Linked DNA regions of Homo sapiens. The protein of the gene in region 4 interacts with the protein of the main gene of each other region in a pairwise test. Each region holds a gene or a part of one and is shown on either strand. Other genes may lie near its edges.

Region 1 (4,734 bases), on a different chromosome or scaffold from region 4:
TTTTAGTAGAGATGGGGTTTTACCATGTTGGCCATGCTGGTCTTGAACTCCTGACCTCAAATGATCCGCCCGCCTCAGTCTCCTGAAGTGCTGGGATTACCTGCGCCTGGCCCACATTTTCAACTATTTAACTGGTTTACTCCACATCTTGAGTTTTTTCCTGAATTCTTACTATGCTTCAATCATCTTGCCCTTCTATGTGTCTTAAAAGTTGAATGAAACTATCCTCATACCTCCTAATCATGGTGTTTTTTTTTTGTTTTTTTGGTTTTTTTTAATTTCTAGGTTGTTGGCAAGGATTCTGCAGAAAAATTATCCCTACATTGCAAAGGTATCTATCTGAATAAAGGGGCTGGGATGGAAAAGGGTGTGAAACTGTGAAGAATTCTATCTTTCTTTACAGGCGTAGGAGGAAACTCATGGGCTAAGTGGCGCTAGTGTACTGTCAGCTCTCTCCATGGGTCTGTGTTCCAGAAAGCTATGACTCTTTAATGCATCTCTTAGTTTTTTCCTTATTTCCTTTATTCTTAGTATCACAGTCCATGATATCCACTGTCCTTGGGGCGCCCAATTCATTGTGCAAAAGCATTTAAATCAAAATACCCTATTTGTTATTTTTTTAAAAAGTAAAGTGGGGATGACAAGTAAAGTGGAAATTTATCCCAGAAGAGTGGGGATTACTGTGACTATCTGAAGTTTTTATACTTGAATTTTTCTGCTCAGATTTTAAAAGGACTGGAGGAGCTTGAGTTTCCTCAGACTTCACAATACATGGACATATTTAATGATACCTCTGTCCACTGGTTCCCTGTGCAAAAGCTAGAACAGCTCTCCATAGATATTTGGGAGTTTCGGGAAGAACCAGATTATCAGGACTGTGAGGACCTTGAAATCATCAGGAACAAGAGAGAAGATCCTTCTGCTACTGACTGAACTCGTTGTGAGGTACTCAGTGTTGGCTGAGGTAGAAGCTGCCACCAGAGACTAAAGGGAAGGCTGCTATGGAGGAACTACAGAGAACTCCTTTGCCAGGAAAGAACATCAACTTGGCTGTCCTGTTTTGAGGACGATACCCCACATGAGGACTTGGTATAAAGATTCCTGCCCTACGTGGCATTGTCCCATTTTACATCCTTCCCTCATGACCTGGCCTGATGTGGAGTAGCTCCTGAGTAAAGAAGTTACCCTTTTGAAGGTGATCTAAAAATACTGTTTATTTACAGTACATCCCTCTTAGGGGCAAGTCTCTGACTGGTTCTGGACCTGCCACAGTTCACTTGGCCATGTCGATCAGGCTCTGCAGTGAGGTGGGCACCCACGTCTTCTCGCCCTGGACAAAGACCACTCCCCGGTCGATGTAGATCACAATGCGGCCAAAGGTGTAGAGCTGCTTCCCTTCGTGTCGCTTCCCAATGACGGGCATGAAGACAATGTTGTGCTCCTCAGCCTTGGTCTCAATGAGGTCCTTAAAGTTCATGGGCACAGAGCTAGCGGCCACGCCAATGCCCCTCTGAGCCATGTTCTCAGCCTCCCGCCTCTCCTGCATGGCCTCGTACTGGAAGTCCTTCCTCCGCTCCGTGTGGGTGAGATAGGCAATGTTCTCCCGTGCTCCTGGCTGCATGTAGGCACCTAAGATACAGGAGGACAGGGCGGTGAGGAGAGGTGTTTCCAGGTGTATGGAAGTTGACACTGTGGCTTGGCCCAGGTCTTGGGTGTGCCAGAGTGCTTGTGACTCACTGAAGGGCAGCTCTGCCTCAAAGATACAACTTTGGAGGAAGTTTAGACGACTGGCCAGTATCACATAAAAACTGTTCAGAAGGTTCCTGGCTAGTATCTAGTAACCAGATTATTAATATTCAACATTTTAAAATGAAGTATCTGCAAGGGATTTCTTCCTTCAGAGCTGGAAACATTAACAGAGAGTCCTCAGCCACTCTTCTGTTCCCACCTTGCTCTGTAGAGTTTCCATTTCCCACCACCAAAGAGGCAGCTTTTAGTACCTTGAAAACATAGGGCCCATACTGGCTTTATTTTTAACCTACCCACACAGGGCCCCCATCCTGAAAGAAGTTCACATATATTTAGGGAGCTGAAATGAGTGTTTAAAGGATAATACCAAGACCATAAATGCTAAGTGCTAATTGAGGGGTATATTCAGGGAACAGTTTTGGAAACATGAGGCCAAGGGTAGCTAAGGAAGAGTTTTTAGAAAAAACTTGATAATTACAGAAGCAGAGAAGTATATTTGCCTTATTACTTAATCTCTGTTTTCACAGAATAGGCTATTTTTCTTTTTTTTTTTTTGAGACCGAGTCTCGCTCTTGTCACCTAGGCTGGAGTGCAGTGCTTGCAATCTCGGCTCACTACAACCTCTGCCTCCCAGGTTTAAGCGATTCTTCTGCCTCAGCCTCCTAAGTAGCTGGCATTACAGGCATGTGCCACCGCGCCCGGCTAATTTTTGCATTTTTAGTAGAGACGGGGTTTCACCATGTTGGTCAGGCTGGTCTCGAACTCCTGACCTCGTGATCTACCCGCCTCGGCCTCCCAAAGTGCTAGGATTACAGGCGTGAGCCACCGTGCCTGGCCTAGGCTATTAAATAACAAGAATTAAAGACTCAGGAAATAGAAATTCCAGTTCTAACTGCCACCCTTTAACTATGTGACCTTGAACAGGCTCTCAGCCTCGCTGGGCTTATCTGTAAAACACAGACTAGACGATCCCATTTCAATGCTGCGAATCGGCTAATGAGCAACACTGGAGCACAGGACTGGTTGAAATAGGCTCCCAAATGTAGAAACATAAATATACTCTCACTTACTTATGATCTAGGCAGAATGACTTACCTAGAACTTGGGAACAGATATAGTACACGAACAGTGAACTGCCTGTTTTTGACAACACAGACACCACCTATTGAAGGCTATACACAAGCATGAACTCACTCTCCCTTTTAGCCTATAAAGTAGATCTTACTGTTTAACAGGTAAAATGGGGCTGATTAAGGCTGAGCAATCACCAAGTGTCAGACCGCGTGCCAAACTCCACACTGTAAGATGCGTCACCTAAGCAGCATGCTCAGGCATGAATGAGCCTTAAAAGGCCACACAGCACAGTGGTTAAGAGGGCGGGGCCTGGGGTTAGACTGACATCATCTGAATCCAGCTTAAGTCAGTCTCCACTCAGGGAAGATGCCCCTCTCAGTCATGGTAGACCTGGGCAGTGGGTGCCAGCTGACCATGTACCCCAGTCAGCAGGGTGAGAGTCTGTTGCTATGTGCAAAAGTGTGACCTAAGGTTTAGGCTGCCTACAGGAACCAGAAAACTCTGATTCTGTGTCATTTACATGTGTAAAATCTGAAACTTGGGGCCAGGACATCCAAAATGGGAATCCTCACTTACCAACGTTGGAGGACACCGCCCGGTTCATGATATCAAGTGCCTCATTAAATTTGTCCTTGACAGATGGATGTGCCAGCACTTGGTCTGAGAACATCGACTTCCAACCCAGGTACCACTTGGTGATCTCCTCATAATTTGGGCTGTTACTGAGCCAAGAGCACAGCACCTGCCAAAAAGAAAAATTACTTGCATCCATCGTGGCAACAAATGAAGGCAAGATTTCTGAAGTGGCCATTTGTTTTGTTTTGATCCTGGTCCTACAGGCTAGTGACACTACTTTACAGGGATTTATAGTAGCTAAACAGTCTAGCACTTATGAATATGGATTTTGGAGTCAGCCTGGTAGCTAAAGTGCCCTTGCATGTAAACTCTCTGAGCCTCAGCTTCCATGTCTACACAACAGGGATACCATATCCCCTACCCCATAGGGTTGCTGAGAGGAGCTGAGATAAAGCAAATAAAGTGCTTGGAACAGCTTCTGATACATGGCAAATGTCCAATAAATGGTGCCCACTATGAAGATGACCTAACTCATTCCTACCCTACCATGTAATTTATTTTCATTATGGAATTGTACCTACAGTCAGGCCTTGGCAGAAAATTAACTTAATCCCCACCCAGTTCCCTCCCCCAGAAATCCAAGCAAAACAAAGTGTACCTGAAGCCACTTGGGGAAGAAGTGCTTTTCAAGAAGTCCCACCAGGCTAGAGACAGAGATCATCCCTTCCCAGTCAATCACCCAATAGAATGCATCCATGTGCTGCTGGTGGGGGTTAATGACTAGCTCACCAAGACACATCCCTGGAAGAGAAACCCGGTCTGTAAGGCACAGCTTTAGTACTGGCAAAGCCAAAGAAGCACAAAGAGCAAAGACAATGTCCGTTTTCATCTCAGCTTACAGCAACCTCCGCCTCCCGGGTTCAAGTGACTCTTGTGCCTCAGCCTCCCGAGTAGCTGGGAGTACAGGTGTGCACCACCGTGGCCAACTAATTTTTGTGTTTTTATTAGAGACAGCGTTTTGGCATGTTGCCCAGGCTGGTCTCAAACTCCTGGTCTCAGGTGATCTGCCCACCTCAGCCTCCCAAAGGGCTGGGATTACAGGCATAAGTCACAACTCCTGGCTTTTTTTTTTTTTTTTTTTTTTTTTTTTTTTTTTTGTTGAGACAGGGTCTCACTGTTGCCCAGGCTGAAGTGCAATGGCAGATCTTGGCTCACTGCAACCTCTGCCTCCGAGGTTCAAGCCATCCTCCCGCCTCAGCCTCCCTAGTAGCTGGGACGACAGGCGCCCGCCACCACACCTGGCTGGTTTGTATTTTTGGTAGAGATGGGGTTTCA
Region 2 (7,148 bases), on a different chromosome or scaffold from region 4:
GAACTGGTGTCTCCTATTGGATCGTGCAGAAGGAGGACCTAGGCACACACATATGGTGGCCACACCCAGGAGGGTTGATTGGCAGGCTGGAAGACAAAAGTCTCCCAATAAAGGCACTTTTACCTCAAAGAGGGGGTGGGAGTTGGTCTGCTGGGAATGTTGTTGTTGGGGTGGGGAGGAGTTATTTCAATGGAGGAGTTATTTGCAGATTGCAGAGAGAAATGAGGGAAGTTCGCCTACACCGGGCCATCTGCGGGGTCTGCAGGTGAGGAAAAGAGAGAAAGCATTGGCTGAATCTATATGCCCATTTTTTAAAACAAGATCCAAAGTCCATGAACATTTTACACACAAGAATACCGAAGCTTATGGTACCTATTGGTACAAAAGCCCTAAGTACCAATACGAGACCAGAGTTGGCATTCGTGCCTTTAAGAGATCCCTTTCCTTTTTCCCTCTGCCCTCTCAGCAACCCCCTTACCCCCAACCAACACACACACACACTTACCAGTGGGGGCTGCTGTATGTCTTGGCTGCCGAACGGGGAAGGTGACATAGGCATCATAGCCAAAGAGGCACGTAGCGATTAGGCCCAGTACCTGGGGGACAGGATAGGAGTGAGGGGGTTTAGATTAGCTGGTCAGGTTACTCAGTCTCTTATCTTCTTGTATCCACCACCTCCAGCACCTGCCCCACGCAGGATGGGACTCAAGCACCGGGTTGGTAAGCCAGGGAAAGGCCAAGAGAGTGCATCCTACCCCACTCTCCCTCCTCCTATACCTCTCAACACAGGGAGGCCACACTGTGGCCCTACCCGTAGGGGGCACAATTCAAGTCATACTTTTTTTTTTTTTGAGACACAGTATCACTCTGTCACCCATCTGTCACTGGGGCTGGAGTGAGTGGCATGATCTTGGCTCACTGCAACCTTTGTCTTCTGGGTTCAAGTGATTCTCCTGCCTCAGCCTCCTGAGTAGCTGGGACTATAGGCGCCCACCACCATGCCCGGCTGATTTTTGTATTTTTAGTGGAGATGGGGTTTCGCCATGTTGGCCAGGCTGGTCTTGAACTCCTGACCTCAAGTGATCTGCCTGCCTCGGCCTCAGCCTCCCAAAGTGCTGGGAATACAGGCATGAGCCACTGCGCCCGGCCCCAATTTCTACTACATTTGGGACAAAGTTCTTGCAGATGGTAGTCTAGTGCATTGACAAAGGGGCCGCCTGTTTGTACCTCTCACCAAGGTCCTTGTGTCTGACAAGGGACTTCCCTTCACAGCAAATGAAGACCTTGGGAGGCAAAACCAAGTCCTGGGCCAGACTTTCCTCCATGTCTGAGGACAAGTGTGACTTGCTGTGGGTCACACGATTTCTGCCAGAAGCAAAGGCAGAAATGGTCCCTGGCTCCTCAAACCCTTCGCTCTGTGCTTCAGAGCTGCTCCCATGGCCTTTACCCCTGCGACGATTTTGGAGTGGTTTCCTCTCTCAACAAGGACAACAATGGAGGTGATCAGGTAGAGGATTGCCGCTATGAGGGTTCGGAAGAAATCCTGTGAGGTGTAGGGAGGAGAAGAGGGAAGTCAGCAACCACAGTTCCCCGACAATCCTAACTGCCCAGACCCCTCCCTGGTCTTGCCATTGTGGACCCCTTCTCACACTCCAGGGCCAGTTGATGAATGGTATCTTGGTGTGCAGGTCACACATGTAGACAACAAAGAAAATAGCAGCAAGGATCATCTCAATCACCGACAGGGAGGAGTAGCCTGGTGTGGAGGCACTGAAGCAGATCAGGATCACCAGGCATAATATCTGGAAGGGTGACATGGGAAAGGGGACCTCAATCAGCAACCAGGGCTGAGAAGATTGGTTTAAATTGGGGGTCCCATACTAAGATGCCTACGAGGGCTGGGGAAATGACATACAATAATAGCTAAACACTTTTTATGTGCTCACTGTGTTCCAAATTCAATCATCACGACAATCTAATGCTCTGGGTACTATTATTACTCTTTCTAATTTATAGACGAGAAAACTGAGGCACAGAGAGGTTTAATGGCTTGGCCAGGGTCACCCAACAAGTAAGGAGTAGAGTTGGGTGCCTCAGTTTCCTCTTTTCCCTTCTAGGTTACGGGCAGCCTGAGGGGAGTGGCGCTGCCAGGTGTTTTGTGAGCCCCGCTGACGCCAGCTTTGTGGCCTTGACCGGGGCGGAACACGCGGTTCCCCCAGCAACCCCTTTGGGAAGCGGTGAGAGTGACACCAGAGAGGCAGGACTCCGTTAAAGGCGCCGCACCCCTTTTACAAGTGACTCAAAGGCGGCGCCCACTTTGAGAAGGGTGGAAACCCCGAAAAGCTAAGGACATCCCGCCCGGCCTCTGAAGGGCGAGGAAGAACTGGCGAAGGGCGGGGCGCTCTACACCGCGGGACTAGCGCGGGGCGGGGGGGCCCCACCCCAACAGGCCCTGCCCCTGGGCGCGCTGCCAGCCCGCCCTCCTGTGCCCAGGCCGCGCCACGCCCTGCCACAGGAGGCCCCCACTTCCCAGCACCCTGGGACCCCTTCGATGCGTCCACTGATGAGTTCACGCAGGCTGTCCCCACGTAGCCCTCCGTATGCGTTATAGGCTCCTTGCTTCACCCCGGGGACCACCAGATCTCAACAACCTTCGTCAAACCCCACCGACTCGCCCTGCGCCCCGGGTTTCGGGCCTCCACCGTGAACCCACCCACCTGCACCCCACTGCCGAGCGCCCCGGCCAAGTGCCTGCCTCACCCGGACCATCCAGTTCCGCATGGTCCAGCCACCCCATCCCGCTTTTGCCCACGCGCCTGCCCCAGAACGCTCACAATCTCAGCAAACAGGAGGATTCCCTTTCGAGTGCGCGAGAAGTTGGTGCAGGCGGCCCAGCAGCCAGGAGCCGAGAGGCGCTCAGAATCCGCCATGGCATGGGCTGGAGTCCCTGGTGCCTCGGAGGATCTGCTCACTTGCTCGTGGTTTCGAGGACGCTGTACACCCAGCTGTCTTGCCCGCCGTCTGGCCGGGAAGGGGGCCCCGGGGCGAAGGAGGGAGTGAATCACCGCGCAGAGCTGACGCGGGCGGGGCCGGAGCCGGGCCAGGTGGCTGCCGCCCCGGAAGCCCCCTCGCCCCGCCCCCCAAGGATACTCCCAGCCTGGCGCACAGCCCCCGGGGCGCCCCATCGCAGGGGTGCTTGGCAGCTCCAGGTACCAGGAGCAGTAATAGCGGGACCCTTCGCCTTTTTGGAATGCAAATGCACCCGAGACAGCTTCAGCTTAGAACCGCGGGAATCTGGCTTTGGGATGGAGTGACTCAGTTTCCTTAACTGAATAAAACGGCCGAGGCAGAGTTAAATCCGAAAGACTTGGGGCCCAGTATGTTGCCAGAATTCGGAATATTTTTGATTTCAGAAAGTTTTCCCATGCATATACTCTCAGCGGGGTTTGGAGCTGCCGCGTTACAAAAAAAAAAAAAAAGGGCCAGGCGCGGTGGCTCACGCCTGTAATCCCAACACTGGGAGGCCGAGGCGGGTGGATCACCTGAGGTCGGGAGTTCGAGACCAGCCTGACCAACATGGAGAAACACCGTCTCTACTAAAAATACAAAAATTAGCTGGGCACGGTGACGCATGCCTGTAATCCCAGCTACTCGGAAGGCTGAGGCAGGAGAATCGCTTGAACCCGGGAGGCAGAGGTTGCGGTGAGCCAAGATCATGCCATTGCACTCCAGTCTGGGCAACAAGAGCGAAACTACGTCTCAAAAACAACAACAACAACAAAAACGGTATTTCTTCAAGAAAAGGTATGAACGTTCACAATAACTGGGTAAGGATTGAAAAGTGTTCCTCGGCTGGGCGCAGTGGCTCATGCCAGTAATCCCAACACTCTGGGAGCCTCAGGTGGGAGGATCGCTTGAGCCCAAGAGTTGGAGATCAACCTCGGCAACACAGTGAGACCTCATCTCTACAAATAATTTTAAAAATTAGCCCAGGCGGCCGGACGCGGTGGCTCAAGCCTATAATCCCAGCAGTTTGGGAGGCCGAGGTGGGCAGATCACGAGGTCAGGAGTTCGAGACCAGCCTGTCCAACATGGTGAAACCCCGTCTCTACTAAAAATACACAAAAAATGAACCGGGTGTGGTGGCGCTCGCCTATAATCCCAGCTAGTCAGGAGGCTGAGGCAGGAGAATCGCTTGAACCTGGGAGGTGGAGGTTGTAGTGAGCCAAGATTGCGCCACTGCACTCCAGCCTGGGCGACAGAGCAAGACTCCGTCTCAAAAAAAAAAAAAAAAAAGAAAAAAGAAAAAAATTAGCCCAGGCATGGTGGCACGTGCCTGTAATCCCAACTACTCGGGAGGCTGAGGTGGGAGGATTGCTTGAGCCTGGGAGTTCAAGGCTGCAGTGAACCATGATCAGACCACTGCACTCCTGCCTGGGCAACAGAGCAAGACCCTGTCTCCAAAAAAGGAAAAACAAAAAGAAAGGAAGAAAGAAAATTGTTCCTCGTTAGATCAGGTCAGGTTTTGTAACCAAATAGTGCCTATCTTGTGGGAAAACCATCAGTTTCCAGAGCTTTTTGTTTTTGGATAATGGATTGTGGACAGTGGAATAAACCTCTGAGCAGTGATGAGAATAAGACCCTGCCAGTGTAAAGGCTGTGTGAGAATAGGGGTTGGTGAGCATTGAGTTGCTCAGAAATAGGGCAAGCATTGTTTCAAGTGTTAGAGCCCAAGGCCAGGAGCAGTGGCTCATGCCTGTAATCCTAGCACTTTGGGAGGCCGAGGTAGGAGAATCACTTCAGCTCAAGAGTTCGAGACCAGCCTGGGCAACGTAGTGAGAGCTTGTCTCTATTTTAAAAAAACATATTTTGTAGTAGTGTTAGAGCCCAGAGAGCCCAAGGTCTGATTCTGTGTTCTGCAATCCCAAGGAAGTCCTGGCCCTAAATGTTGGGCCTCAGTTTCCTGGTTCTGAAGAGAGGGGCCAGTCAGCACAATCGTACATGAGGAATAGGAAAGTTTATTTCTGGGGGATTGGCAAGATGAATGGATGGCTCCTGGGGTGCAAGGCTGGGTGACATTTGTAGACACTTTGTTTGTATTTATTTATTTTTTAGTAGAGACAAGGTCTCGTTATGTTGCTCAGGCTGGTCTTGAACTCCTGACCTCAAGCAATTCTCCCGCCTTGGCCTCCCAAAGTGCTGAGATTACAGGCGTGAGCCACTGCGCCTGGCTAAGTGTGTTATTTTGAGCAAGTAATTTCCCCCAGCTCAGCCTTAATTTCTGCATCTAAGACATGCATCTCGTCTCCTGGAATCAGGATCCCAGAGGTACCCTGAGGGACACACTCTCCAGACTAGAAGTTGTTTTTATTCTCATCTCATTTGAAGTGGGGGAGAATCATAACTGGATGGCCAGGAGGATTCAACCCAAGGGCCTGCCTGCTCTCTCTGCCAACACAGGGCCCCTCAAAACTAAGGAAAGAGCTCCCCTCTTTCAGCCCCGGTTGCCGGAAGAGTGAGTGAATAGTGGAAGGGATGAAACATACTTTTCCTAGTGATGAGTATGTGCTTTCCAACTCTGTGAGGACACGTCTGAATTTCTGAAACAAGATGAACCTGGTTCCACTTCAACACCTTTGCACTTGCTATTCCCCCTGCTGTCAATGCCCTTCACTCAGTGCTTCATATACCTGGCTTCTGGTCATTCAGGTTGCAGCTCAAGAGTTATGTCTTCAAAGAGGCCAGAAGCTCACCATCATCTCCCACAATGTAACCTCCTTTTGCTAGCTTCATAGCTTCATGACTCTCACTTCTCTCTGAAATTGTCTTTTTTTTTTTTTTTTTTTTTTGAGAAGGAGTTTTGCTCTTGTTGCCCAGGCTGGAGTACAATGGCACAATCTTGGCTCACCGCAACCTCCACCTCCCGGGTTCAAGCGATTCTTCTGTCTCAGCCTCCTGAGTAGCTGAGATTACAGGCATGTGCCACCACACCAGGCTAATTTTGTATTTTTAGTAGAGATGGGGTTTCTCCATATTGGTCAGACTGGTCTCGAACTCCTGACCTCAGGTGATCCGCCTGCCTTGGCCTCCCAAAGTGTTGGGATTACAGATGTAAGCCACGAGCCTGGCCTTTTTTTTTTTTTTTTTTTTTTTTTTGAGATAAGGTCTCACTGTCACTCCAGCTAGAGTGGAATGGTGCAATCATGGCTCACTGCAGCCTTGACCTCCCAGGCTCAAGTGATCCTCCCACCTCAGTGTCCCAAGTAGTTGGGACTACAGGCATGAGCCACCACTCCCAGCTAATTTTTAAACTTTTTGTAGAGACAAGGTCTATGTTGCCCAGGCTGGTATCAAACTTGTAGGCTCAAACAATCCACCCGCCTCCGCCTCCCAAAGTACTGGGATTACAGGCACAAACCACCATGTCTGGCCTGAAGTTTTTTTTTTTTTTTTTTTTTTTTTTGAGACTGATTCTCGCTCTGTCACCCAGGCTGGAGTGCAGTGGTGCGATCTTGGCTCGCTGCAACCTCCACCTCCTGGGTTCAAGCAATTCTCTGCCTCAGCCTCCCGAGTAGCTGTGATTACAGGCACCTGCTACCACACCTGGCTAATTTTTGTATTTTCAGTAGAGACGGGGTTTCACCATCTTGGCCAGGCTGCTCTTGAACTCTTGACCTCGTGATCCACCAGCCTCGGCCTCCCAAAGTGCTGGGATTACAGGCGTGAGCCACCACGCCTGGCCTGGTTTTTTATTTATTCATTTTCTCGTCTTTTTTGTCTGACATCTGTCTACTCTCATTACATACATCAGCTACACAAAGAAATTTTATGTCTTGTTCCTCCAGCATCTCCACAGTACCTAGCACAGTGCAACATATACAGTTGGGGTTCAATTAATACTTGTCAATGCAGGTGAAATTGAGAGGACAGACTTGGGAATCAGGCCTTGATTAAATCGTGCTTTGACCCTCCTCTCTGTAGCTATCTGCACTCCCTGGGCCTCACTTTCCTCCTCTGCGAAATGGACATATTCGGATAGTTGAGTAGATGTGCAACTATTGTAGATGAAAATAAATATTGCAATAAAGCCAGTAGCAGGGATAAAACTAAGTACATGGTGGCTGGGGTTACTATTATTAGTCTCCTGG
Region 3 (7,499 bases), on a different chromosome or scaffold from region 4:
CTCCATGCACCTTTCCTTTTGGCTGACTTGGCTCCATACCCTTTGATGAGAGTAAATCAGAGCTGTGAGTGCAATTGCATACTGAGTCCCCAGTCCCAGAGAACCATCAAACCTGGGGTGCTCTCTGATTCCTGAGTCCTAAAGAACCATCAAACCTGGGGGTGGTCTCGGGGACCCCCGGCACACTGTCCTTCTCAACTCTTTTCTCCTCCTGAACACTCACCACCATTGGGCATCCCATAATATTTTACCTGTTTACCTTGTCATCGTCTTGCCCACACCCCAGGTTCCACCCCAACCCTGCTCTGTGCAGTATTCCCAGCTCCACCCATAGAGACCCACAGAAGATGCTGGGGGAATATTTCCTGAATGACACCCATAACAGCTTTATTTTCAAAGGCGGGATCCCTCCCCGGGCTTGTGATGGGACGGCGCTGTGGGCCCGAGCAGCAGAGCCGTGCAGGACAGGCATGGGCAGGGGTGGGGCAGCTGGCCCGGGAGGCCGGCAGGTCCCAGAAGACACCTCACACGGGTTCCATCTGCAGCTCCTCCCCGTCCACAGCCTCAATCTGGTGGAAGGCAGCGTGGGAGCCGATGACCACCAGGGTGGCTCCTGCAGGAAAGCCGGCAGCTCAGGGCCACACTCCTGCACCTGGCTCCCACCATCCACCCCAGCTGCTCAGACCCTGTACTCACCCAGCACCCAGAAGACGGCCGAGCCCGCACCAGCCAGCCAGAAGAAGGGGAAGGAGATGCCTCCAGCCAGAGCATACTGATGCGCTGGGCTCACCTCTCGGCCTGGGGGCAGATGGCATTGGGGTGCTGTTCCGACTCTCCATGCCCTCTCCCAGAGTAACCCCTGCTGCCCCCCAACAATCCGTACAAGCTCCAGGTTCTCGGGATCGAATCCAAACTCCTCATGCCAAGGCCCTCCAGGTCCTGGGGTCACCCTGTTCCCCTGCTGTCCCCACTGCCCTCCAGAACACAGCACACCGTCCTCGCCTGCCTCAGCCCCACCCTCTGCCCTCTGCCCCACATCCTCCAGGAAGTTCCTGGGATCCCGGCTTCCTGCTCCCTAGACTAGGGCTCTCCTGCTGCAACCCTCGCGCAGACCAGGGTCTCAAACTGGTGGCCCAAGGGCCAAATCTGACCTGTGGATGTGTTTTTTGAGCTGTTTTGCAAGGATGTGATTTGTGGCTGGCAAAGTGAACGATTTCACATAAAAATACCAACTTCAGGCTTCTCATAGAAGTCTCAGGGATGGGGTCTACATGCTCTGGTGACGGTGATCAGCTGAAGCCAAGTCGTGCCTGTGCTTCAGGCACTCCCTCCACCCCAGCCCATCAAGCACATAACTTGCAGGCCCCTGAAGAGCCTGGCCTTCAGGTCTACCTAACTGTCCAATCCCAACTCCCTGACCCCACTCCAAACCTTGATTTTCCCCTGGGGGGAATTTCCCCTGGCATTTTGTTTTCCCAGTGGTCCTTGGTACTACTAGTCTGGGAACCACATGAAACATACTCCTCGGCTTCCCTCTCTAAGTTCCAAGTTCTTTCTGGTCACACCCCAGAAAGCAGGAAAAGAAACGGGAACAGATCTAGGCCAGTGTAAGGTGGCCACCTGGTGTCCAGTGTGGGCACCTGCAGCTGATGTTGGCCGCAGAGAGCGGCAAGGGGAGGAGAGAGAGGGGAGGAGTCATGTGGTTTGAAAAGGAGTAGGTTTAAGGCACAGCAGCCAGGTGGATCCTGGGTTTGAGGAATAGCAATTTGAGGGGGCTGAGACTCGATGGAAGGATCGGTTGTGTCTGAGATTTTAAGGGATCAGGTTTGGGGGATCTAGTGTACATCTAGGCTTGGGCGGACTTGGGTTTTGAAGGACTTGGATTTGGGGTCTGAGGTCTGTCTGCATTCCAAAAGACCAAGATTTGAGGGACCAAGGATTCATCTGGGCAGGGGGTTTCTCACCAAAGAGCACAAGCTTGGACTCCAAGGTGCGCAGATAGAGAATGTAACAGGCGCCGAAAAAGACAGCCAGAGCCACCAGCAACATAGGGGACGTCACCCTGGAGGAGGAGTGCAGGGAGGCAGCGGTTAGACAGCTGGGGCTGGGCCAGCCCGACGGCCCTGGCCTTCTCCACCGGCGGGCGGCAAGCTACATCCTGGAGACCAGGGAGGGCCAGGTGACATTTAGTCACACTGCATCCTGGCCAGGGTGATGGTGGGGTAGGGGACCTGGCCCTTTGGTGACAAGGTAGTCTAGCAGAGCCAATCCTTGGGGGCGGGGCCTGGGCGGTGAGAAGAGGGCCCTGGGCGGTGAGAGGAGGGACCGGGCGGTGAAGGGCGGGGCCTGAGCGGCGAGAGGAGGGGTCCAGCCGGTCGGGGCTAGTGCGGGTGCGGGGCCCGGGAGGCACTCACACACAGTACAGGATGAGGCCCAGGAACACGAACACATAGTTGCTCTGGTAGTACTCCACGTTGCGTACGAGGCGCTGGCACAGCTCTCCCAGGTTGCGGGGCCGTGAGAAGCGCTGCTGGTCCACGAAGGTGCTCCAGGGCCGGATGGTCGCGCGGCGCCGCTCCAGCCACTCCCGGCCTGCACCGGAGGGAATCAGCTTCGGCAGCAGGGTCCTGCGGGGGGTGGGGCCGGGTCAGTGGTGGACCGGGATGGAGCCCCAGACCCCCGCAAAAGAAGGGGACTAAGGGTGCCTGGACTCCCTCCCGGGACCCCAGATTCCTGTACAGCAGGCAGGGAGGGGACTAGGGGCCCAGACTCCAGGGTCCCATTAGAGGAGACCGGGGCCAACACTTCTGCGGCTCGGGGCTGGGACTCCAGGCTCTCGAGGGAGGAGGGAGGAGGGGGCCGGGGGCCCGGACTCCCGGGTCTCTGGTCCGAGGGCCTAGAGCCAGCTCGCTCACGTGCCGCTCAGCCCTTCCGCCTCGGCATCTTTCTGCTGGTCCTTCTGCGCTGCCATGTCTGCGTCGTGAGGGGTAGAGCTGCTGTAACCAGCCCGGTACCCTGAAGACCCCGCCGGCCCCGCCCGACGCCGGCCCCACCCAGCGGAGTCGACGTGGCGCAGCCCCGGAGCAGCTGGGGACTGTAGTTCTGCCGCCGAGTATTGTGGGAGTTGTAGTCCTGACGGTGACTAAGAGGATGGGCGCTATGATGGCGGTCTGACTCGCAAAACACCTTGGGAGATATAATCCCAGAAAGTGACGGCGCGCGCCTCTGGGTATTATAGGAGTTGTAGTTTCAGGAGGGTGCATGTGGGCTGTCAGGAGCGAGGGCGTTATGGGAACTCTAACGGCAGAAGCGGGCGTTGTGTACTCTCCCAGGGAAGGCACAATGGGGACCGTGCAGAGCTGTCCTTCTGACTCTAGAGGGCATAAAAAAACACCTGGAGGGCTTGCTAAAACAGATTCCTGGGCCCTAGCCCAGATGTTTTCATTCAGCAAGTCTGGGGTGGAGCCCATAATTTCCATTTCTGAGTTCCCAGGTGATGCTGATGCCCCTGGTCCATGGACTACATTTTGAGTAGAAAGATTTAGATAATTTGTGGGAATTGATTCCTTCCTCAAGAGATTGAGGCTAGTGAGGGGGCCATGGTTGCTGGAGGGGTATCTGAGGTTGCCCCCTGCCCCACCTTGTGGAGTCCCAAAGATGAATGAGTTGGGGCTAGGGACACCTCCGACCCCGCCACACACACCTTTGGAGAGAAGGGAGTGAAGTTGGGAAAGACAAAAGGTTGAGAAGTTTTGTGGGCTTTTTTGAAATGGAGTCTCGCTCTTGTTGCCCAGGCTGGAGTGCAATGGCGCAATCTCGGCTCACTGCAACCTCTGCCTCCTGGGTTCAAGCGATTCTCCTGCCTCAGCCTCCAGAGTAGCTGGGATTACAGGCGCCCGCCACCACGCCCAGCTAATTTTTGTATTTTTTTAGTAGAGACGGGGTTTCACCATGTTGGCCAGGCTGGTCTCGTACTCCTGACCTCGTGATCTTCCTGTCTCAGCCTCTCAAAGTGCTGGGATTACAGGCGTGAGCCATTGTGCCTGGCCCACAGGGCTGGAATTCTAATTGAATTCTAATGGGGTGAACCAGAACAGGGCCTCAAGAAATGTGTGTGGAAGTATAGGGAAGCCTGGGCTCCCTTAAGCAGACTGGGATCCTAATTTTCCAAAGCAGCTGGGTGGGGCTGGAAGGAAAATATCTATATGGGATAACCAGGTGACCTTTTTTTTTTTGAAAATTTTTTTAAGTAGATAAGGGATTTTGCTGTGTTGGCCCAGTAGGTCTCAAACTCCTGGACTCAAGCGATCCTTCTGCCTGGCCTTCCCAAGTATTGGGATTACAGGTGTGAGCCACCATGCCCAGGTTCAAGTGACTTTTTTTTTTTTTTGAGACGGAGTCTCACTCTGTCGCCAGGGCTGGAGTGCAGTGGCACAATCTTGGCTCACTGCAACCTCCACCTCCTCCTGGGTTCAAGCGATTCTCCTGCCTCAGCCTCCCGAGTAGCTGGGATTACAGGCGCCCGCCACTATGCCCAGCTAATTTTTTGTATTTTTAGTAAAGATGGGGTTTCACCATGTTGGCCAGGCTGGTCTCGAACTCCTGACTTTGTGATTTGCCCGCCTCGGCCTCCCAAAGTGCTGGGATTACAGGTGTGAGCCACTGCGCCTGGCCCCAAGTGACTCTTTTAGGCCCAGCTCTTGTCTTCCAAGATCTACAGCAGTTTAGGGTTTGTGCTTTGAGGCCTGCTGGAAGGTGTTCCCAGGAGGTGGGAGGAAGATGGCCCTGTCTGAGGGGCTGGTGGCGCAATAGGCAGGGAAGCCCTTTGCAAGGGCCCCACACTGAAGATGGAAGAGTTACACTTTGAAGATCAGATTGGCTAGTTACTGTTTATTTCCTCTTTGTCACCCCCAGGCTTTTAGTGGAATCAGGTTTCCTTTTTTTTTTTTTTTTTTTTTGAGATGGAGTTTCACTCTGTTGCTCAGGCTGGAGTACAGTGGCACAATGTCTACTCACTGCAACCTCCGCCTCTCGGGTTCAAGCGATTCTCCTGCCTCAGCCTCCTGAGTAGCTGGGATTACAGGTGTGCACCACCATGCCCAGCTAATTTGTGTATTTTTAATAGAGACGGGGTTTCACCATGTTGGTCAGGCTGGTCTCAAACTCTGACCTCGTGATCTGCCCACCTCAGCCTCCCAAAGTGCTGGGATTACAGGCGTGACCCATCACACCTGGCCTGGAATCAGGTTTTCTAAATAGGATTCAAACTTGAAAATCAAAGGAGGACTGCGGGGCTGGGCGTGGTCCTGTAATCCCAGCACTTATGGGAGGCTCAGGAGGGTGGATCACTTGAGGTCAGGAGTTCAACACCAGCCTGGCCAACATGGCAAAAGCCCATCTCTACTAAAAAAAAAAATACACATGCCTGTAATCCCAGCTACTCGGGAGGCTGAGGCAGGAGAATCACTTGAACCCAGGAGGCGGAGGTTGCAGTGAGCCAAGAGTGTGCTATCGCACTCCAGCCTGGGCGACAGAATGAGACCCTGTCTCAGAAAAAAACAAAACAAAACAAAACAGAAAACACCAAAGGAGGAGTGCAATAGCACAATTAGCCCCGAGCAGGAATAGGGGAGCAGCATCTGAATTCAAAGGGCCAAAGCAGCAGAGGTAGCCCTTGGAAGAACCTCCACCGAAAGACAGAGCTTGGGGAATAGAATTGGGACAGAGCTCCAGCTGCCTCTTTGGTGGCAGGCCGTAGGAGATTCAGGATGGACTTTTGTTATGAGAGCTGTTGGGTTTCCTTATAGGAACTGAATGAAAGCAATTTCATTCCAAAACCCACTGGTCTTTGTTCTGAGCAGAGAACATAGAGGCAGAGGCCTGGAGGTGTCGAACAGCGCAGGCCATGGCAAGAGACGGGGAGGGGGACAGTGGAGTCTGAGGGGCAAGGACATTGCAGGAGGGGTCCTAGGAGTGGGAGGGTGGGGGGGGACTTTGAATAAGGGAATTTCAGGAGATGGGACCTGGACACAGGGGTAATGTGGGAGAGGAGGGCCTGAGGCAGAGACATCATGAGATGGTGAGAAATGGGGTCCCTGAGGGAAGGGGCCTTTGGCAGATGGGCCCTGAATTAGGGGGGTAGGGGGTTGGTGTGCTGGGAGATGAGGGGGCACCTGAGAAGATTGTGAGTCCCAGGCCAGGTGTGGCTCACGCCTGTAATCTCAGCACTTTGGGAGGCCAAGATGGGCGGATCACTTAAGGCCAGGAGTTCGAGACCAGCCTGCCCAACATGGTGAAACCCCATCTTTACTAAACATACAAAAAAAAATTAGCTCGGCGTGATGGTGCACGCCTGTAATCCCAGCTACTCAGGAGGCTGAGTCAAGAGAATCGCTTGAACCCAGGAGGCAGAGGTTGCAGTGAGCTGAGACTGTGCCACTGTACGAGACCCTATCTCAAAAAAAAAAAAAAAAAAAAGAAAAAGATGGGTGCCTCCAGCCTGAGGACTCCTCCCTCCCTCCTGGGATCCCCAAGGAAGCGGTGCTGGGAAAGCAGGAAGACCTTAGCACATTCAGCCAGAAATGTGGGTCACTGTCCCTGCTGTGTGACCTCAAGGAAAGCCCTCCCGTCTCTGGGCCTCAGTCTCCCCACCTGTCTATGGGAGCGTCTCTTCCCCTGCACCAGAAAAATTAAACAGTATGTGTGGGTTTCCTAGGAGAGGTCTGGGCTCATGTAGCCCCTACCAGGACCAGGCTGTACTCTGGGGTCACCAGGGGTGCCCAGCGCACATGGCCCCTGCCCTCCAACTGCCTTTCCCCCTCAGATTCGGGAGTTTCTCCCTCATCCATTGTCTTGTGCAGTGGGTGTGTACATGCACTTGCACACTCACCCACTCACACTCACTCTCAGCATCCTGGCCACAGACACTGGCATTGGGAGGCAGGCAGGCCCAGGCCTGGCCCCAGCCCCTCCTCTGACTTGCCTCCCTGAGCTGTGTTAGGAAGGCTGCCTCGAGGGAAATGGATTCACTGCCCCACCAAGGTGGCAAAAATGAAAAGGACTGACAACTCCCAGTGGAGGAAGGATGTGGAGCAGCTGCTGCTTCCTTACACTGTTGGATGCAGAATGGCACTCGAACTTTGGAAAGGGTCTGGCAACGTCCATGAAAGCTAAACATGGTCTATCCCATGAACCAGCAATTCCACTCCCAGGCACGCGTGTACCCAACAGAGTGCACATCTGTCATTAAAAGACACAACTAGAGGGCTGGGCGCGGTGGCTCAGGCCTGTAATCCCAGCACTTTGGGAGGCCGAGGTGGGCAGATCACAAGGTCAGGAGTTCGAGACCAACCTGACCAACATGGTGAAACCCCGTCTGTACTAAAAACACAAAAATTAGCTGGGCGTGGTGGTGCACGCCTGTAGTCCCAGCTACTCGGGAGGCTGAGGCAGAGGAATCACTTGAACCCGGGAGGTGGAGATTGCAGTGAGCCAAGATC
Region 4 (7,000 bases):
GTTTCTAATAATGCAATACTAGGAAATGTCTCCATTAAGAAGTATTTAGATGATATAGAAGTATTTCAAGTCTGTCCAGGTAGAAAATATTCCAGAATTAAGTATATGTGCTAGTTGCTTTCAATTAAAAGTTATAATCAGCTTAGAGAAAGCCTATAGTTAAAATGGCTTAGTTTTTTTTTGTTTTTTGTTTTTTTGTTTTTTGTTTTGTTTTGTTTTGTTTTGTTTTGTTTTTGAGACAGACTCTCACTCTGTCACCCAGGCTGGAGTGCAGTCTTGGCTCACTGCAACCTCCGCCTCCTGGGTTCAAGCGATTCTCCTGCCTCGCCTCCCGAGTATTTGGGATTACAGGCGGCCACTGCCATGCCTGGCTAATTTTTTTTGTATTTTTAGTAGAGATGGGGTTTCGCCATGTTGGTCAGGCTGGTCTTGAACTCCTCACCTCAGGTGATCCACCTGCCTCAGCCTCCCAAACTGCTGGGATTACAGGTGTGAGCCGCCGCGCCTGGCAAAATTTTTTAACATATTAATTTTTTTGTTTGTTTTTTTGAGATTGAGTCTCACTCTGTCGCCCAGGCTGGAGTGCAGTGGCACAATCTTGGCTCACCGCAACCTCTGCCTCCCGGGTTCAAGTGATTCTCCTGCCTCACCCTCCTGAGTAGCTGGGACTACGGGCGTGCGCCACCACGCCAGGCTAATTTTTGTATTTTTAGTAGAGACAGGGTTTCACTACCTTGGCTAGGCTGGTCTTGAACTCCTGACCTCGTGATCCACCTGCCTCAGCCTCCCAAAATGCTGGGATTACAGGCGTGAGCCACTGTGCCTGGCCTTAACATATTAATATTTAAGATAAAATGGATATGCAAAGAATTTTCTTTATTTCACTATATATATCTGTGCACACTAATTTTCAGTATAAGACTGGCTGATGATTTTCTTGGTACTTTAAAGCAACTTATGATTTTAACACACTTCTCTAAAATTACCATCTTAGCTTTGAGAAGAGAGACCATTATCACAATGTCAAGGTTGTAAATCAAGTTTAGTGTTAGAATGTCTACATCTGCTGTCTCCTCGGGGTTCAGCTTAGTACGTCTCCAAGGTCACAGTTGAGTCTACTGAGGGCTCTGTGTTCCTGAGGGAGCAGATCTCGAGGGCCACCAAGGAAGAGTTCCATTGAGTTTAGAATCCCCTGTTCCTTGCCAGTCCAGAGAACTCCCTCTAAAACGACAGTTCAGAGTCAGCCCGGGAGTTAGGTCTCACGAATCTCACCTCGTGTTAGCCGTGCTAGGATCAAGGCTTGCTCTTGAGGTAGAGGAAGTGGTACAAAGCAAATATTTGAATCCTTCCTGGTGGAATTTCCTCACTTGGCAATAAGAATCTGCAACAGGGAACTATAATTTCAGTTTCCTGTTATGACATAGCACAGATGCCTGAGCAAAGAGGGGCAGCCTTTTAGTTGAGGATGTTCAGCTAGGCCAAAGCTCACAGATGCCAGGGTTAGAAGGATGGCCCCCTTCATTCTCCTTAGAATGTAGTTATTCGTTCAATCAACAGATAATGCCTGCTGTGTGCCAAGCACTGATCTAAGCTTTGGGGACACAGTGGTAACACAGTCATAGATGAGGAAACAAACTCCAAAAGGATCAAGACTTATCTAAGATCACAGAGCTATGAAAACCAGAAGTCACTAAGCTCACAACAAAAGACTACACATTTTTTCCTAAGGGCAAATGTTTCATTTTGTTGTTAGTTATAGTGCCTTCAAGTTTACATTATAGATCTTTCTGAGGACATTGTGTAACTTTTAATCACGTCCATATGAGTGGCAAATTTGCCTGTATTTTGTATTAAGAACTACATGTAGGCGGGGCACGGTGGCTCATGCCTGTAATCCCAGCACTTTGGGAGGCTGAGGCGGGTGGATCATGAGGTCAGGAGCTCAAGGCCAGCCTGGCCAAGATGGTGAAACCCCGTCTCTACTAAAAATACAAAAAATTAGCCGGGCGCAGTGGCAGGTGCCTGTAATCCCAGCTACTCAGGAGGCTGAGGCAGGAGAATCGCTTGAACTTGGAGGGTGGAGGTTGCAGTGAGCTGAGATCACGCCACTGCACTCCAGCCTGGGTGACAGAGTGAGACTCTGTCTCAAAAAAAAAAAAAAAGGGAACTACATGTGAATTTCTGGTTATGTGCTATTACAGTTAGATTTATGGTGTATTGCGAATTTATCAGGAAGCAGGCTTAACTTAAACTTCTTTCTCTAGGCTGGGTGTGGTAGCTCATACCCGTAATCCCAGCACTTTGGGAGGCAAGATGGGAGGATTGCTTGAGCCTAGGAATTCGAGACCAGTGCAGGCAACACAGGGAGGCCCCCATCTCTACAAAACCAAAAAATTCACCTGACGTGGTGGTGTGTGCCCATTGTCTCAGCTACTTAGGAGGCTGAGGTTGGGATAATCACTTGAGCCTCAGAGGTTAAGGCTGTGGTGAGCTGTGATTGTGCCATTGAACTGCAGCCTGGACAACAGAGCAAGACTGTCTCAAAAATTAAAAAAGTAAAAAAACATCAACTCCTTTCTCTAGCGTGGACTATCCCTATAATCAGACAGGAGCATCTTTATTAAAGGGATTCTTAAGGTAATGTCAAAAGATAACTGATGGTACTGCAGTTGAGAACTAAGACAGGAAGTATGGTGTCAGAAAAGGCTGTCTCACATCTGGTCCTAGCATTGCCATGTGATCTTGGGTAAGTCATTTAAATTTTCTAGACCAGATTCCTTTTCTGGAAGAACTAAGGGTGTTGGAATAATTTCTGTAAGAGCTCTTCTGGTGGCCGGGCATGGTGGCTCACGCCTGTAATCCCAACACTTTAGGAGGCTGAGGTGGGTGGATCACCTGAGGTCAGGAGTTCGAGACCAGCCTGGCCAACATGGTGAACCCCCATCCCTACTAAAAATACAAAAATTAGTTGGGCGTGGTGGCGGGCACCTGTAATCCCAGATACTCGGGAGGCTGAGGCAGGAGAATCACTTGAACTGCAGGAGGTAGAGGATGCAGTGAGCTGAGATCACGCCACTGCACTCCAGCCTGGGCAACAAGACTGAGACTGTCTCAAAAAAAAAAAAAAAAGAGTGCTTCTGATTCTGTGATTGTAGTATTTCACCAAATTGTTTTCTGTAGTTGGACTATATACTGACAAAATAGCCAGTTTCCTTGGCTTTCTTCTTTAAAATATTGTTGGTATAGCTAGATGAGACTCTACATTTAGTTCTGATGTAAACATGAATTCTTGACGTGAAATATCACATGCTTTTATTTCAGGATTAACCTCCATTTCAGCTAATCATGGGAGAGATTAAAGTCTCTCCTGATTATAACTGGTTTAGAGGTACAGTTCCCCTTAAAAAGGTATGTATGGTTTTACTATACCTCTTATTTGCAAAATCTTGTATTGTTTTTGTGTGTGATTTAGATGTCATGTCTTAGTAGTGTTTGAGAGTAAAGGTTACTGCCGAGTATCATGACTGTGGGTTGCAGAGGATTAAGTTCACTCCTTCCCTGTCATGTACAGTCAACTTTTGAGACTCATTTTAGAGTGAAAGCAAGTGTAACTGTACTCATTTTTATTTATTTATTTATTTATATTTATTTTTGAGATGGAGTCTCGCTCTGCCGTCCAGGCTGGAGTGCAGTGCACTGCATGATCTCGGCTCACTGCAACCTCTGCTTCCCAGGTTCAAGAGATTCTCCTGCCTCAACCTGCCAAGTAGCTAGGATTACAGGCATGCGCTACCACACTCAGCTAATTTTTGTATTTTTAGTAGAGGCAGAGTTTCACCATGTTGGCCAGGCTGGTCTCGAACTCCTGACCACAAGTGATCCGCCCACCTTGGCCTCCCAAAGTGCTGGGATTACAGGCGTGAGCCACCGCACCCAGCCTGTACTCATTTTTTATAATTGCTTTTACATATACAAGCAAGCAGGTATGTATGTACTCTTCTGTATAGTTTAGTGGAAAGTTTACAGCAACTGTATAGTGAGTACAGTCAGATTATATTCCTGTTCCTCAGATTTAAGAATGGGGTCACATTATAGAGCTTCTGTTTGCAATGACATACTCATTCTGCCACAGTCATCTTCTAGAAGCTTTATTTTCCTGGGATGTTTGAAAACCCAAAACACTTATATTGCAGTTGAGTATTGACTCTGCTTCCCAAATTAATCCCAGATGTTTGGGGATCACACTAGACAAAGGCAGTTCAAGTCACTGAGTAGAGTAAAACCTTTGCTGATTCCCTTGCAGGAGTGTTAGAATCCAGTGATCTTAAGATCTTTTGCAGCTGTTTGTGATGGCTCATGCCTGTAATCCTAGCACTTTAGAGACCTAGGAGGATCATTTGAGGCCAGGAGTTTGAGACCAGCCTGGGCAACATAGCGAAACTCTGTCTCTATAAAAAAATGAAAAAATTAGCCAGGCATGGTGCTGTGCACCTGTAATCCCAGCACTTTGGAAGGCCGAGGCAGGAAGATTGCTTGAGCCTAGGAATTTGAGATCAGCCTGGGCAATATGATGAGACCCTTTCTCTACAAAAACTAGAAAAAATTAACTGGGCGTGTTGGTGCACGCCTGTAGTCCCGGACACTCAGGAGGCTGAGATGGGAGGATTGCTTAAGCCCAGGAAGACAAGCTTGCAGTAAGCTGTGATCGTGCCACTGCACTCCAGCCTGGGTGACAGAGCCAGACCTTGTCTCAAAAAAAAAAAAAAAAAAAAGAAAAGAAAAGAAAAAATGTGAGTGGCAAGATACACAGGACAAAAACATGAGCGTGAGATACATTATCACCATCTGTGACCTGTGGAAGTCCAAAGGGAACTGTTAGGCCTCTCTGGACTTTGCCTTGCTCCATTTATCTGCTCCTAGTGATGCCAGTGACCCTGGTTAGTGTGCTGCCACCCACAGAGTGACACTGTGGAGTCCATAGCCCTGCTAGTGAGGAGCTCTCAGAAAAAAGAGCCTGGAGGCCTTGAGTTTTTTAATATGAAAGTAGAATAAATACTGATTTGCATTGTCAAATGTTTAAGCAGTTAATGTACTTTTCTAAATACCACCAAAAGTGAAAGCAAAAATTAAACTAGGATGCCGTGAATAATAATAATAGCTAATATTTCTAGGACACTTAACATCTGCCAGACTCTGCTGAGCACTTGTCTTACCTCAGCTTGCCTTTTTTTTTTTTAAGAGACAGGATCTCTCCCTCTGTTGCTCAGGCTGGAGTGTTGTTGTATTTTTATTTATTTATTTATGTATTTTAAAGAGACAGGATCCAGGCCGGGCGCAGTGGCTCACGCCTGTAATCCCAGCACTTTGGGAGGCCAAGGCGGGTGGATCATGAGCTCAGGAGTTCGAGACCAGCCTGACCAATATGGTGAAACCCCGTCTCTACTAAAAATACAAAAAATTAGCTGGGCATGAGGGTGTGTGCCTATAATCCCAGCTACTTGGGAGGCTGAGGCAGGAGAATCGCTTGAACCTGGGAGGCAGAGGTTGTAGTGAGCCAAGATCGTGCCACTGCACTCCAGCCTGGGCTACAGAGCGAGACTCTGTCTCAAAAAAAAAAAAAAAAAAGGAGGAGGGGGAAGAAACAGAGAAGCAGCAGCCCTTTGGAAGATTATAAAGTAGTTCTAAGTAGTTCTGTGGAATACGTTAGCCCTGAGGAAAGAAAAGGAGATCAGAGGAGTTTGTCATGCATGCTAATCTGGTGTGAGCTCCAGGTTACCTTGTAACAAACAAGGCAGTAGTAGTAAAATTGTCAGTGAAATGACAGTGTAAAATAACATAAAAAGCAAATTTATAAGGTTTTCCACTTTTTTCTTTTAACCTTCCCTCCAGATTATTGTGGATGATGATGACAGTAAGATATGGTCGCTCTATGACGCGGGCCCCCGAAGTATCAGGTGTCCTCTCATATTCCTGCCCCCTGTCAGTGGAACTGCAGATGTCTTTTTCCGGCAGATTTTGGCTCTGACTGGATGGGGTTACCGGGTTATCGCTGTAAGTATTACTGATTAAAATTCAGACCCACGTTTTGTGTGTTTTTTTTTTTTTATGCTTCTGTCTCTCATCAGCTATAGTAATGGGCACAGTTTGTTTGTTTGTTTGTTTGTTTGTTTGTTTGTTGAGATGGATTCTCACTCTGTCGCCCGGGCTGGAGTGCAGTGGCGTGATCTCTGCTCACTGCAACCTCCGTCTCCCGGGTTCAAGCGATTCTCCTGCCTCAGCCTCCCGAGTAGCTGGGATTACAGGCGCCCGCCACTACGCCCAGCTAATTTTTTGTATTTTTAGTAGAGACGGGGTTTCGCCGTGTTGGCCAGGCTGGTCTCGAACTCCTGACCTCATGATTCATCCACCTCAGCCTCGCAAAGTGCTGAGATTACAGCCACGAGCCACTGCGCCCAGCCAGGCAGTTTTTTTAATTGAGGAAAGATACTGTTTGCTTATTTTAATATGTGAGATGAAGCCTTTTGAAGGAGGCTGGTGTGAGTCCACGGTCACACAGAGATTCAGAGGGAACAAACCTCTTTTGGCAGCCTCTCCATGCCCAGCATTTACGTGCATTCTCTCCTGACGCCCTTCTCTCAACTCAGAGCGGTAGGAAGCGTTGTCCTTCTTTACAGATGAAGAAACTGAGGTCCGGCTCACACAGCCAGTAGTGGTGGAGGGAGGAACTGAGCTCCGTCTCCTGGCTCTGTTTCTGCTCCTCATTTTATCACAGCACTGCTTCCAGGGTTGCTGAGCATGGAATATTAGACAACAAAGGGATTTGCTAACATACAAGTGACTTGAAAAGCTGGCTTTTCATGTAAATCTTTGATATTTGAGGTGAGATTCATTAATTAGCTCATATGTTAGCATTTGGTTAGGAAGTTTTTTTGTTCCTGATTGTTACTTTATAGCTGAGTTTGGTCTAAATCCAGTTTCCCACTGATCATTCTTGAGTCTT

The links.
Region 1: the proteins of SPG21 (region 4) and TFIP11 interact in binary tests that used the Homo sapiens proteins (3 or more experiments, as listed by UniProt).
Region 2: the proteins of SPG21 (region 4) and PLP2 interact in binary tests that used the Homo sapiens proteins (3 or more experiments, as listed by UniProt).
Region 3: the proteins of SPG21 (region 4) and RABAC1 interact in binary tests that used the Homo sapiens proteins (3 or more experiments, as listed by UniProt).

The regions. Positions count from the first base shown.
Region 1 is NC_000022.11:26,490,740-26,495,473, forward strand, and holds the end of TFIP11 (tuftelin-interacting protein 11), read right to left. Parts: intron 4,201-4,734; coding exon 4,058-4,200; intron 3,920-4,057; exon of another isoform or gene 3,566-3,919; coding exon 3,400-3,565; exon of another isoform or gene 1,630-3,399; coding exon 1,274-1,629; 3' UTR 934-1,273; coding exon of another isoform or gene 724-933; 3' UTR 501-723; downstream 1-500. Other genes in the region: SRRD (SRR1-like protein), read left to right, coding at 286-331, 724-933. UniProt on the Homo sapiens protein: Involved in pre-mRNA splicing, specifically in spliceosome disassembly during late-stage splicing events. Intron turnover seems to proceed through reactions in two lariat-intron associated complexes termed Intron Large (IL) and Intron Small (IS).
Region 2 is NC_000023.11:49,167,783-49,174,930, reverse strand, and holds the start of PLP2 (proteolipid protein 2), read right to left. Parts: upstream 3,034-7,148; 5' UTR 2,931-3,033; coding exon 2,835-2,930; intron 1,803-2,834; coding exon 1,650-1,802; intron 1,544-1,649; coding exon 1,448-1,543; intron 597-1,447; coding exon 506-596; intron 260-505; coding exon 237-259; 3' UTR 1-236. UniProt on the Homo sapiens protein: May play a role in cell differentiation in the intestinal epithelium.
Region 3 is NC_000019.10:41,956,322-41,963,820, forward strand, and holds RABAC1 (prenylated Rab acceptor protein 1), read right to left. Parts: upstream 3,001-7,499; 5' UTR 2,972-3,000; coding exon 2,916-2,971; intron 2,628-2,915; coding exon 2,415-2,627; intron 2,063-2,414; coding exon 1,965-2,062; intron 799-1,964; coding exon 697-798; intron 614-696; coding exon 525-613; 3' UTR 362-524; downstream 1-361. UniProt on the Homo sapiens protein: General Rab protein regulator required for vesicle formation from the Golgi complex. May control vesicle docking and fusion by mediating the action of Rab GTPases to the SNARE complexes.
Region 4 is NC_000015.10:64,979,915-64,986,914, reverse strand, and holds part of SPG21 (maspardin), read left to right. Parts: intron 1-3,321; 5' UTR 3,322-3,345; coding exon 3,346-3,408; intron 3,409-5,889; coding exon 5,890-6,051; intron 6,052-7,000. UniProt on the Homo sapiens protein: May play a role as a negative regulatory factor in CD4-dependent T-cell activation.